Homo sapiens: one gene and its partner. The protein of the gene in region 1 interacts with the protein of each later gene in a pairwise test. Each region holds a gene or a part of one and is shown in the gene's direction. Other genes may lie near its edges.

The links. The genes of interacting proteins can lie anywhere in the genome.
Region 2: the proteins of CFAP206 (region 1) and CPSF7 interact in binary tests that used the Homo sapiens proteins (3 or more experiments, as listed by UniProt).

What each region holds. Positions count from the first base shown.
Region 1 is NC_000006.12:87,417,968-87,425,003, forward strand, and holds part of CFAP206 (cilia- and flagella-associated protein 206), read left to right. Parts: intron 1-240; coding exon 241-449; intron 450-7,036. UniProt on the Homo sapiens protein: Essential for sperm motility and is involved in the regulation of the beating frequency of motile cilia on the epithelial cells of the respiratory tract. Required for the establishment of radial spokes in sperm flagella.
Region 2 is NC_000011.10:61,412,972-61,420,007, reverse strand, and holds part of CPSF7 (cleavage and polyadenylation specificity factor subunit 7), read left to right. Parts: coding exon 1-59; coding exon of another isoform or gene 60-86; intron 87-3,488; coding exon 3,489-3,903; intron 3,904-4,223; coding exon 4,224-4,342; intron 4,343-7,036.

The sequences.
Region 1 (7,036 bases):
GACCTCGTGATCCGCCCGCCTCGGCCTCCCAAAGTGCTAGGATTACAGGTGTGAGCCACCACCCCCGGCCTAGATTTTCTTTATGTTGTGGGACCCAGGAAACACATGCCTCATTATTACTAATTTGATTGGGGAGAAAAACCCTAACTTAATGTTTAAAATGTAACTACTTTCTAGGCTTCTTCTCCTTAATTGTTTTTAGTCTCCTTTATGGCTGCCTTTTCATACTCTTACAAACAGTGCCAGCTGTTCTCCATGTAGCAATCCCAGCCACCATGCAGCATATTGATTACCAGCTTGAGACTGCCCGGAGCCAGGTATACCGCTACACAGCCATCCTTGAGAAGGCAGCCAACGACCCACTCATGAGGGCTGAACTTCAGCCATATATGTTAAAAGAAGCGCTATATAATATACGACAATATGAGGTCTTCCTTCAGATCATTTTGGTGAGTTAAGTTCATAAGACCTGACCTTTTCTATATAATGCAATCTCTTTATATAAGGCCACATCAGGTAGAACCAGGTCACTAATTAAGGAGAAAACCTCAGTAACTGCTCGGTTTATATTGCTTTGGTAGAGTTAGGAATCAAAATAGAAACAGAAAAGTTGGGTTTTGATTTTAATGAAAATATTTTGGTAGAAGTTGAATTTGTATTTTTTCATTGGTACTTGATAATATGATTGTTAGCATGCTGTAGTTAAACAGTGGTGTATATGTAAGTAATACTATGTTTATTTTAGTTCAGAGCAAGTATGTAACATTGTTTGGCAGGTAGTTGCCTTTCAAATAATTTTTGTGTAATTATTTGTTCTCACTGTAACAACTGGTACAAAATATTTTTTTAAAGGTTTTTTGTAGGCCAGGCAGAGTGGCTCATGTCTGTAATCCTAGCACTTTGGGAGGCAAAGGTGGACAGATCGCTTGAGCCCAAGAGTTCAAAATCAGCCTGGCCAACATGGCAAAACCCCATCTCTACAAAAAGTACAAAACTTAGCCGGGCACAGTGACATGTGCCTGTATTCCCAGCTACTCAAGAGGCTGAGGTGGGAGGATCACTTGAGCCCAGGAGGCAGAGGTTGCAGTGAGCCAAGATCACACCACTGCACTCTGACAGAGGGAGACCCTGACCCTGACTCAAAAAAACGTTTGTTTTTTTTTTTGTTTTTTTTTTAAATATAGATTGGAGTCTTGCTATGTTGTCCAGGCTGGTCTTGAACATCTGGCCTCAAGCAATCCTCCTGCCTCAGCTTCCCAAAGTGCTGGGGTAACAGGCATAAGCCACCATACCTAGCCAGATAAGATTTTTATATCTGGTGTTTTTAGATCTAATGAACAAGCCAAACAGTATCCCTAGAGAGTTGAAAAATATGGTAAAGTGGTGGTTATAAACTTTTTAAAAAGTAGCAGTGACCTTTCTGTCAGATAGAAACTTACTCAGAATCTTACAAATATAAAACAGATATCTACATAAAGGGACTGGAGGACCTTTTCACTAAGGGATATCCCCTTGACACTCTAGGGTTGTAAGAAACACAGTCTGTTAATTACTGCATGATGGCAGGTTATGTTCCCACTTGTCACCGTTTACTTTTACACAACCTCTGTTTTCCAGTAACTATGAGATTCTCGGTTAGTGGAACTGTCTTTTGTATGAGTGAATGCTAATTTCTTGAGGGATAGAATAGGATGTATTCTGACCACCTCTTCTTTTTAACTTGCATTGTAATGACTTGGTCCTTCTATTGGATGCACTTGGTCTGTCCTCTCTCCTTACCTAGCTGTTCTGATGACATGACTTCATTCAAACTAGGGGTTGTCCTCACAACTAGCCTATCTAATTGTCTTCAGGAGGAAGGATCCTAGCTGGGAGGCTGAGGTTAGAGAACTGCTTGAGGCCAAGAATTCAAGACCAGCCTGGGCAACATTACAAGACCCTGTCTCTACAAAAAATAAAATTAGCCAAGCATGGTGGTACTAACCTGTAATCCCAGCTACTTGGGAGGCTAAGGTAGGAGAATTGCTTGAGCCCAGGAGCTTGAGGATACAGTAAGCTTTGGCTATGCCACTGCACTCCAGCTTGGGTAGCCAAGGAAGACCCCATCTCTAAAAAGAATAAATAAATAAATAATAATAAAAACCAAGTCACACTCTTGGGGTGGATATTTCCCTTTACATTACCTTGTGGCTATCAGCCTTATGTTAACTAGTCAGCTACTAAGGGGATTTTGTAATCAATTTATTTTGAAGTGCATGTGAGTCCACAGGAGTAGAACTTCACATTCACATTTGTCACCTGTATTCAGAGGTGATATTATAAGAAAGAACCTTGAGAAACTGTCACACAACTGTAAGGATGTTGCAGAAGATGTCATTCATTATATAGAATCTTCTCATAGCTTGCAATCATGAATCCACCAACTAAGTCTTAAATTCTCATTGGCGTTCTACTTCTCACAGCTGGAGAGGACAGTGAGTAAAATGTAGAAATGATGAGTGTGGTCTTTGCAACCAGACTACATGAATTCTAATCATGACTTTGCCACTTACTAAATCTGTGTCCGTAAGGAAGCTGCTTAACTTCCCTGTGCCTTGGTTTCCGTATCTGTAAAATGGGGTTATTCATAGTCTTCACCATGTAAATAAGGCGGCATAGTGCCTGGTGCAACGGCTCAATAAAGTGATGATGATGTTGTTTATGATTATCATCATCATCATTGTTAGGGCCTTAGCTGAACAGCTGTGATTTCATTTGTCTAGTGGAACAAGCTGAAGAGCTTTTATTTTTCCATACAGTATCTCATTTCCAAGCTCCTTGCTGCTCACGTTGTTGAGAAAGTTAATTTTCTTATCCAAGCACTCTTTATGGCTGTTTTGTACTGACTTTAGTCAGGATCAGGATGAGTTTTCTTAACTTTCTGATTCTCTGCTCAAACAGTCTTTTTTGTTTTGTTTTGTTTTGTTTTTAAACTATTCAGTCCTTCCCCATCAGTCTTAGTGACAATTAAGGTTGATTATTATGAAATGGATATTGGTTTAATCAGTATTATCTCTAGATTATAAACTGCATCAATTTAAAATTAGCCAAGATTTTTCCTATATTAAAATCTATGAATATTCGTTTTAAAGTCACATTATTTGAACTAATTAAAAATTTTAAAGTAGCAATTTTGATTTTTAAAAATTCTCTCATCAAAGTTTCAGTTTATGTGAACATTTTAAAAATCCAATATAGGCCGAGCGTGGTGGCTCACGCCTATAATCCCAGCACTTTGGGAGGCTGAGGCAGGCAGATCACCTGAGGTCAGAAGTTCGAGACCAGCCTGGCCAACATGGTGAAACCCCGTCTCTACTAAAAATACAAAAATTAGCCGGGCATAGTGGTGGGTGCCTGTAATCCCAGCTATTCAGGAGACTGAGGCAGGAGAATCGCTTGAACCCAGGAGACAGAGGTTGCAGTGAGCTGAGATCGTGCCACTGCATTCCAGCCTGGGCGACAGAGTGAGACACTGTCTCAAAAAGAAAAAAAAAATCCAATATATAGCCTGGGTAAGATAGTGAATTATTTTGTTTTAATCAGGCCTTTATCTTCTGCAGTGAACACATTGAAATATTCTAGAAAAGAAAAGGGAGTGATGATCGTAGTTTTGTTGACTCTTAACTGAGAGAATAAAATTCCATCTTCCATGGGCTTTTAAAGTGCAAGGCAGACACCAAAGAGGGAAAGCTGCATGTTATTGTGCAAGTAAGAGCTGCGTTTGACAGCACATTTGTTAAAACCTGTAAGTCAAGATTTTTGTAGAGTTATTTCCCCCCAAGCTATTTTTGCAGGGCCCATTCACAGACACACAACACAGGGCTTCTTGATTTTTCTTGATAAGGCAAGTAAAAAAATCAGTTAGGTGGAATTTGTGCTTGTTTTATTATATTTTATTTCTGTTGTAATAAGAACATTAAACATCAGAGATTCCATTCTAATTTCTGCTTCTATAAGTTTGACTAGACTTGTTGAAAATTGTCCGTGGAAGAAAGTATGAGGAACTTATAAAAAGTGTTTAAAAGGTAGGGGGAAGGGGAAGAAGACAAAGAAACATGCTGGGATCACATGCTTTTGCCAAACATTTGAATGTTATGATAAAATTTTTTTAAGTGATAGCATTTTTAGAGGACTAATATTATAATTAAAAACTCTAGATGGGCCGGGCGTGGTGGCTCACACCTGTAATCCCAGCACTTTGGGAGGCCGAGGCAGGCGGATCACCTGAGGTCAGGAGTTCAAGACCAGCCTGGCTAACATGGTGAAACCCCATTTCTACTAAAAGTACAAAAAATTAGCCAGGCATGGTGGTGCGAGCCTGTAATCCCAGCTACTCGAGAGGCTGAGGCAGGAGAATTTCTTGAATCCGGGAGGCAGAGGTTGCAATGAGCCAAGATCACACCATTGCACTCCAGCTTGGACAACGAGAGCGAAACTCCATCTCGAAAAAAAAAAAAAAAAAAGGCCGGGTGCGGTGGCTCACGCCTGTAATCCCAGCACTTTGGGAGGCCGAGGCAGGTTGATCATGAGGTCAGGAGTTCAAGACCAGCCTGACCAAGATGGTGAAACCCCGTCTCTACTAAAAATACAAAAAATTAGCCCGGTGCAGTGGCAGGCACCTGTAATCCCAGCTACTTGGGAGGCTGAGGCAGGAGAATCGCTTGAACGCGGAGGGTGGAGGCTGCAGTGAGCTGAGATTGCACCACTGCACTCTAGCCTGGGCCACAGAGTGAGACTCTGTCTCAAAAAAAAAAAAACAAAACAAACAAAAAAACAACTCCAGATGATTGTGAATAAATTCTTTTTAGTAAAATGTAAGTAGAGTAATTTCTAGGACATTATTAGAAAAAAAGCAAGAAGCTCTGTGTGCCTACTCTGAATGGATCCTGCAACTACAGCTTGGGGGAGGGGTCTAGAGTATTTTTTTTCTTTTTCAGACAGGGTCTCGCTCTGTCACCCAGGCTGGAGTGCGGTGGTGCAATCTCGGTTTACCTCTGTCTCCAGGGTTCAAGCGATTCTTCTACCTCAGCCTTCTTGGTAGCTGGGACTACAGACACGCGCCACCACGCCTGGCTAATTTTTTTGTATTTTTAGTAGAGACGGGGTTTCACCATCTTGGCCAGCCTGGTCTCGAACTCCTGGCCTCAAGTGATCCACCTGCCTCAGCCTCCCAAAGTGCTGGGATTACAGGCGTGAGCCACTGCGCCCAGCCTTAGAATATTTTTTTATTTTTATTTTTTTATTTTTCTTTTTTTTTTTTGAGACGGAGTCTCGCTCTGTCGCCCAGGCTGGGGTGCAGTGGCGTGATCTCCGCTCACTGCAAGCTCCGCCTCCCGGGTTCACGCCATTCTCCTGCCTCAGCCTCTCGAGTAGCTGGGACTACAGGCGCCCGCCACCACGTCCGGCTAATTTTTTGTACTCTTAGTAGAGATGGGGTTTCACCGTGTTAGCTAGGAAGGTCTCTTATCTCTTGACCTCGTGATCCACCCGCCTCCGCCTCCCAAAGTGCTGGGATTACAGGCGTGAGCCACCGCGCCCGGCCCAGCCTTAGGATATTTTTAATTGTAGGTTTTAATAAGTATTGCATGTCGAATGCAACTTTTATTTTGGAGAACGTATGCAAATGTATTCCTGTTTCTTGTTGCTGTTGCATAAATCTTAAAAGACTTTAAAGACTGCATTTTCGTATTGATTCCTAAAACAAAACTTAACAAGCAAGGGGGAAAAAACTCTATGAGGGTAGACAAGAGACCTATTTGATATAATAGATAATAGTGTATGGAGGAATAAAGCAGGAGGAGGAGTAAAGCTTAAACAGCAGTATGGGTAAAATTAAACAGGATACACGTTACATTTATGAATAAAAATTTGTTAGTTGTAATACAATGATAATAGTTGATAGTACTCATGAAGTAATTATTTTTGTCATTTAAAAGAGTCTAGAAAGCATATAATTAGGCTACATACAGATGTCTGAGAATTCAGATGCACCTTTTTCTCTTCAAATAGATGTCATTCTTTTATGCTATACTGATAAACCCACACCACAACCATTTCTGGTGACATCTTGGGCAACACAGTATAATGGTTAAGAGCTGGGCTGTGGGCTCAGATGGTTTGGGATCCACCAAGATTGCTACCCCTTATTAGCTGCATATACTTAGACAATTTACTTACCTTACTATTCTTTGATTTTCTCATTTGTACTTATCCCTTTTTGTATTTGTAAGTATTTAATGTGGTGCTTAGCACATAGTAAGAATAAATATAATTATTTTTTTTTATTTTTTTGGGACAGAGTCTCGCTCTGTTGCCCAAGCTGGAGTGCAGTGGCTCGATCTTGGCTCACTGCAACCTCCGCCTCCCGAGTTCAAGTGATTCTCCTGCCTCAGCCTCCCGAGTAGCTGGGACATAGGCAGGTGCCACCACGCCCAGCTAATTTTTTTATTTTTAGTGGAGATGGGGTTTCACCGTGTTAGCCAGGATGGTCTCGATCTCCTGACCTCATGATCCGCCTACCTCAGCCTCCCAAAGTGCTGGGATTACAGGCGTGAGCCACCGTGCCTGGCCAAATATAATTATTTCAAATTCAGTGTTTAGCAACTTATTTTCAGACCATGATTGTTGTATCAAATATATTGTTTTTCTTTCAATGCTCTGACTTTTAAGATTTTCTGCATTCTTCAATGCGACTTTTTTCTGTTTAATTTTTCATACTTTATTCCTTGTATCAATAGATTAAGAAAGTTAAAGTTTCCCAAGTGTTGATTTATAATGTTTGTGTCATACAAAAAGTTCAGTTTCACAAAGAGTAACATTCAGTGATCTATTTAAATGTAATTTTAATCCTTATTTTAAGGTAAGGGCTTTACAATAAGCTAAATACACACAAACCTGTATATCCTGAACTGCAAAAGCAGATTCCATAGCCATATATGTTTTAATCAAGTACACATTTCCACAGTGAACAAGTACTTAGAAATATGTTAATAGAATA
Region 2 (7,036 bases), on another chromosome or scaffold:
GGACGTGAGGCCGGCCACCCGGCAGAACCTGTCACAGTTTGAGGCACAGGCTCGGAAACGTGAGTGTGTCCGAGTCCCAAGAGGGGGTACGTGGAGACCATCTGTATGAGGGGGGGGTGTTTGTGGGTTTGTTTTCTATGGTGTAGGCTTAGCCTACAGTGTGGGTGAGTTTGGGGGAGGGTGATGGTGGTTGTGAGTGGTGTCATGGTCGACAAGTAGTCCTCAGAATAGGTCTATATAGAAGAAAGAGCATTGTGCTGGGAGTCAAGTAGGTTCAGGTTGTAGTTTGGTTCTGCCACTGACTCGTGTGACCTTGGCCAAGTCACTTTACTACTTAGGGCCTGTTTCCCCATCTGGACTAGTGACATGATGTTTAAAGTTCCATCACCTCTAAATTCTGTGTTTCTGTCTAAAACTTGGCATTAGGTGAATGGGCTTAATTTTTAAGACATGCCTCTCTATAAATTATCAAGAAGCAGCCACCCTAAAATGTAACTAAAAGGTGCCTATAATCTTTTCATAAACGTTGATTGGAAGGATACTGTAAGGAATCAACCAAGAGGAGTGTTGGAGAATAAGACTTGAACAATATTTCTCCAGCATTGTCCAGGGGAGAGGGTGCTCTTTTGATTACCAAATGTTTTAGTCTGCTTGGCAGTTATATCCCATTAGTAAAGAAAGTTACAGGCCGGGCGCGGTGGCTCACGCCTATAATCCCAGCACTTTGAGAGGCCGAGGTGGGTGGATCACGAGGTCAAGAGTTTGAGACCAGCCTGGCCAACATGGTGAAACCCCATCTCTACTAAGAATACAAAAATTAGCCGGGTGTGGGTGACACATGCCTGTAATCCCAGCTACACGGGAGACTGAGGCAGGAGAATTGCTTGACCCCGGGAGACGGAGGTTGCTGTGAGCTGAGATCAGACCACTGCACTCCAGCCTGGGCAACAGAGCAAGACTCCATCTTGGAGGGAAAATAAAAAAGTTAGGGGCTGGGCATGGTGGCTCACACCTGTAATCCCAGTGCTTTGGAAGGCTGAGGCGGGCAGATACCTGAGGTCAGGAGTTCGAGACCAGCCTGGGCAACATGGCAAAACCCTGTCTTTACTAAAAATACAAAACTTAACCAGTTATGGTGGCACATGCTTATAATCTCAGCTACTCGGGAGTCTGAGGCAGGTGAATCTCTTGAATCCAGGAGGTGGAGGTTGCAGTGACCTGAGATTGCACCACTGCCTTCCAGCCTGGGTGACAGAGTGAGACTCTGTCTCAAAAAAAAAAAAGAAAAAAGAAAGTTACCTCAGAACTACCTTAGTTTGAGGACAGTTTCCCCAATGTCCATCTTACTCTCTTTATTCTGACTGTACTCACTAAGCCACTTTCTGATGCTAATTTGGTTTCCCAATTAGGGTCTCCTACTAGGAAGAGAATTCGCTGACCAGCCGACACAAGTATTCTGGTCTGCTTGGCAATTACATTTCTCATTGTAAATTAATAAATTGGTGTTATGGTTTATGAATCAGTCTCTTGTGAGTTTGGTTAGCATGAATCAGTCTCCTAGGGCCTAGTCACCCCAGTTGAAGCAAGTTTCTGAACCTGAGAAACCTGAGGACTAGACCTTGGATTTTCCTGACCTCATAAAGTGCAGCCACCCTGCAAGACCTTCCCTGAGACAGCCAACCACCCTTATTTTCTTTTGCTACAGTGGGAGGAACAGCAAAGTTTCATCACTGATGTTCTGTCACTGCTTAGGTCCAGCTCTCAAAATAGTGCCTTGTATTGATTGGGTGTATCCTCCAGGTAGAAATAGGACCACTTTGCTCTTGCATAGGAACAGCTGTTCTTTTAACTAGATTGACAGCCTAGATAGATTTGGTGTGAACTCTTGTTGTTCCATGTTAGAAAGGACACACTCTTCTTCCTTGACAAGTTGTATTTTCAAGTCCCCTCTGTTTTGGAGTCTTTCTGTAATTCACCCCTGACTTTCCTTAGGTATGTAATTTTACAACTGTATTGGGGGTAACGTTCTACTTCTACTCAGCTACTTTTCATGTTACTTTTTTTTGCTGAAAAGATTGTGTAACTGAGTGCTGTTTTTCTGCTCTGTCATGCTGATGGACCTGGGCTCTGTTAATTCACTAAGTAAAGCTGGTGGACTTCCTCTGCATAGAAATGTTGCGTCTTTTGGGACTTGTAGCCATAGATACAAAACAACCTTTGCAGATGTGACAACAGTAGTAGCTGGGAAAGTGGTTAACTGTCAGATGACACTTGCCTTATACCTTTTTGTTCTTCAGTTTGAGAGAACTCTAGGAAAGAGCCAGTTGCCATGTGTTTGAGACCTGAAGAACAAGACAGCACTGGCACTGTTCTGTAAGAGAAATCTAGGTGGTTGTCAACATAATTGATTCCACCTTAGGCTTTACTCAGGAGCTGGGATTAACTATCATATTCTAGTTTAAGGAGCACTCTTTCCTCCACACTTGCTGCCAGTGGCATCTTTCTATCTCCAAGACCCCCCCAAAGCCATGTGATCTTGTTCTTCTATTGGATTCCACAATAAACAGGCTTAGACTGTTAAACTGGAGAGAAGGAACAAGTTTAACCAAGTGACTTGACAATGTCAGAATCCATGCTTCCAGCTGTTTAAAACATGTTCTGAGCTCCTGTTGTGCACAGCACCATACTAGCATGTGGTGATGGTGTTCCTGTTAGGCTGCCCTGAAGGGTAGAGGATTTTGGCCATTGAAATGTAGCGGGAGTTCCCCAGATTGGAGACATGTTTTGTAGCAAGCTTTTGCTAAGCATCCTTACTGTCAGCTGTGTGCTATCTGCTTGTGCTGTGGGCGGATCTTTTATTGGCGTATCTCCCAATTTTTCTTATCTTTCACTTAACCTCCAGTTGTCTAGTCTTCATGTGTGTCTCTTTCTCACCCTGATTACTAGTTTTAGTATGTAAATAGAAGTGCCATCCAGTTCCTGCCACTCCCTCTCTTCCCTTAAATTCCCTAGCCAACACCCTGTGGCAAAGAGAACATTTTAAGTGTGCAACAGGAAGAGGTTAACTAGTATTAGTTTAAGGAGAGAGGTCCTGAACTCTTCAGGAGATGTGGGGTTTCAAGTCAACTGCAATTCACCTGAACATCAGTGAACACTGTCATTTTCTCGTGGGCTATCAGGATCCTTCTACATTTAAAAATAGAAGATACATATAAGGATAAATTAAATCTGTTCTGAAGCACTTCTGGAGTTATGGATGGAAAACATTCTTTGACAGGATTTAGGACGATATTGTTTTTTGGATTTAATGTCTTCACTGAGTTGCTTCTGACCTCTGAAGCCAAAAAAAAGGCAGTAGATGATTTTACCTTCTCAGCCTCTTTAGTCACCTTCCTTTGTAGGGTGTCTGATAACTTCTGAAGGATGAACTGGTCCTGTGGGTTTGTGTAAAGCCTGGGCAGTAACATCAGTTCTGTTTTGCTTCATAGGAATACCTCCACGGGCCCATTCCCGAGATTCTAGTGATTCTGCTGATGGACGGGCCACACCCTCTGAGAACCTTGTACCCTCATCTGCTCGTGTGGATAAGCCCCCCAGTGTGCTGCCCTACTTCAATCGTCCTCCTTCGGCCCTTCCCCTGATGGGTCTGCCCCCACCACCAATTCCACCCCCACCACCTCTCTCCTCAAGCTTTGGGGTCCCTCCTCCTCCTCCTGGTATCCACTACCAGCATCTCATGCCCCCACCTCCTCGATTACCTCCTCATCTTGCTGTACCTCCCCCTGGGGCCATCCCACCTGCCCTTCACCTCAATCCAGCCTTCTTCCCCCCACCAAACGCTACAGTGGGGCCTCCACCAGATACTTACATGAAGGCCTCTGCCCCCTATAACCACCATGGCAGGTAAGGACTATTGTTCCTTTCAGATTTGAGCCAGGGTAAATAAGTGTATTAAGCATTTTATTCTCCCTGAGAAAGTGAGCACTGAATCCTTGTTCTTTCCCTTATAGACATTCTGTTATCATAGCATTGACTCCTGGGAAGTAGTACCATGTCCTTTATACCCCTTTTTAAGGTGCTTAATTAAATGCGGGAGCAGGTGTTATGAATGCTACAGATGTCTAGCATTGTTCTGTGTTATGCCAAAATTACCAAAGTGTTGTAGAGTACAGTAAAAATAATAAGGGATGTGAGCAATCAAGGATGGTATTTTCTCTGTACAGCCGAGATTCGGGCCCTCCACCCTCTACAGTGAGTGAAGCCGAATTTGAAGATATCATGAAGCGAAACAGAGCAATTTCCAGCAGTGCCATTTCCAAAGCAGTATCTGGAGCCAGTGCAGGTAACTCAGTGCTTACCTTTGCTGCCTTCTCCTTAACCTTTACTTTTTTTTCCTGATTTTGTCATTTCTACTGGCAAAAGTTCAACAAGATAAAGTTGGAGTACTGTAGATATCAAGAGCGGCATACTTTGAAGAGCAATATGTAACCTGATTTCTTGGCCTTGGGGAAGCTCCGGCAGTATTACTTAGTCTGTATCTAGGCCTGCCCTCATGAAAACCAACTTAATGCCTAGAATATAAATAATTAATACCATCTCGATGTGGTGTTTGCTGTAGAGTGAAATTCCTGCCTTGTGGAAATCTCCATCTCAGTGGTTGATCTTTAGATCTAGTGTCTGTGTAGTAGACCCAATACCAGATATAGACCCTGGGTCTTCTTTAGGAATGATGTTTTGACTGGATAATGTGTTTTTTTGTTTGTTTGTTTTGAGAGGGAGTCTTGCCCTGTCGCCCAGGCTGGAGTGCAGTGGTGCAATCTTGGCTCACTACAGCCTCCACCTCCTGGTTTCAAGCGATTCTCCTGCCTCAGCCTCCCAAGTAGCTGGGATTACAGGCACTTGCCACCACGCCCGGCTAATTTTTGTATTTTTTTGTAGAGACAGGGTTTCATCATATTGGCCAGGATGGTCTTGAACTCCTGACCACAAGTGATCCGCCTGTCTCGGCCTCCCAAAGTGCTAGGATTACAGGTGTGAGCCACCACGTCCAGCCTAGATAATGGTTTGCTATGAAATCTGATTACATTTAGGAGTCTAAGCAGAGCTGGTAGGTAGCCTATCCTAAAAAGAGGCAAGTCTGTAGATGTCATCTTAAGGCATGTTATGCCCTTACAGCTAACTTTTGCCCTGCTCTCATTATTAAGTGGGTAGAACCAGCAGCCATGATTCTGAAAGCCCTGAGCATAAGATCTTTAGTTTCTAAAAGAAGAGGCTACAGGAAGTTTCAGAGTTCTGGTCCGGTTTTCACATCGTGACATTAGCCATATTCACTTCCTTCCTGTGAGTTTCCTACATGAATGTAAATGTCTGTAGATTATCAGATCTCCTAAGAAATAAGTTAGCCCTAAATATTATCATCTGCTTTCCATCAGTTTTCATCTTTGCATCATCTTGCCAAACTTGAATCCACAGAGAAGGTTAAAGACAGAAAGTACATATGTTCCCTTCATTTTTTTCCCACCAGAAAAATCTACATTGACATCTAAATTAGTCTTTTTTAGGCCAGGTGCAGTGGCTCATGCCTGTAGTCCCAGCACTTTGGGAGGCCAAGGCCGGTAAATCACTTGAGGTCAGGAGTTTGAGACCAGCATGGCAAAACCCCATCTCTACTAATAATACAAAAATAAGCCAGGCATGGTGGCACATGCCTATAGACCCAGCTACTTGGGAGGCTGAGGCACGAGAATTGAGAATTGCTTGAACCCAGGGCGTGGAGGTTGTGGTGAGCCGAGATTGTGCCACTGCACTCCAGCCTGGGTAACAGAGTGAAACTGTGTCTCAAAAAAAAAAAAAAAAAAATTAGTCTTTTTAAATTAAAAAGTAATATATACCCATGGGTTATATGGGTTAAATACACAGAACAGTATAAAGAAAGTACTCATTGTTCCTTCTTCCTCATCAACCCTTTCACACTAAGATGATCAATAACTGAATCTTGATCTCCTGTTGTTCTCATTCCAGTCATTCAAACCACAAATACTTATTGAAGATACTACAAAAACAGGCAAAAATTCCCTGCCAGGATGGAGCTGATGTCTTCATATTCTTGTGCCTCCACTGGACAGTTTCTCCATAGTTTCTGTTCTTGTTGCCTTGCACAGAGGAAGCTGCCAGGCTTCATTTTCACTGGACCCCTGCCTGAATTCATATTTTCTTTGTATTAACTTTTGTCCTTAATGCTCTTGACTTAGCTTGGAAAAGCAAAGTGTAGGTACCCGCCCCATGACCACTATCCCTGAGCCAGGCATTACTCAGAGTTGGGAAATGAAAGGCCTAGTTTTTTATGACAGCATAAATTTTTTTTTTTTTTTTTTGAGACGAAGTCTGGCTCTATTGCCCAAGCTGGAGTAGTGCAGTGGTCTGATCCCGACTCACTGCAACCTCTCCCTCCCAGATTTAAGCAATTCTCCTGCCTCAGCCCCCCAAATAACTGGCATTACAGGTGCATGCCACACTGCCTAGCTAGTTTTTGTATTTTTAGTAGAGACCGGGTTTCACCATTTTGGCCAGGCTGGTCTCGAACTCTGGCTTCAAGTGATCCGCCCACCTCGGCCTCCCAAAGTGCTGGGATTACAAGTGTGAGCCACTGCATCCAGCCATAATTTTTTTAATGTATACATATACTACGCATACATGTTTTATGTAAATATCATATATATACACACATACATCTGATGGTAGGTTAAAAATAACTTGTAGAAATACACATTATTTAGAAAGTCTCATGAGGTACAGTGGCTCATACCTATAATCCCAGCACTTTAGGAGGCCCAGGCAGGAGGATCACTTGAGGCCAGGAATTCAAGACCAGCCTGGTCAACATAGTGAGACCCCATCTCTACAAAAAATTTTTGAAAAATAAGCCAGGTGAAGTGGCATGCAGGAGGATGGCTTGAGCCCAGGAGTTCAAGGATGCAGTGAGCTATGATCATACCACTGCTCTTCAGCCTGGATGATAAAACAAGACCCATCTCAA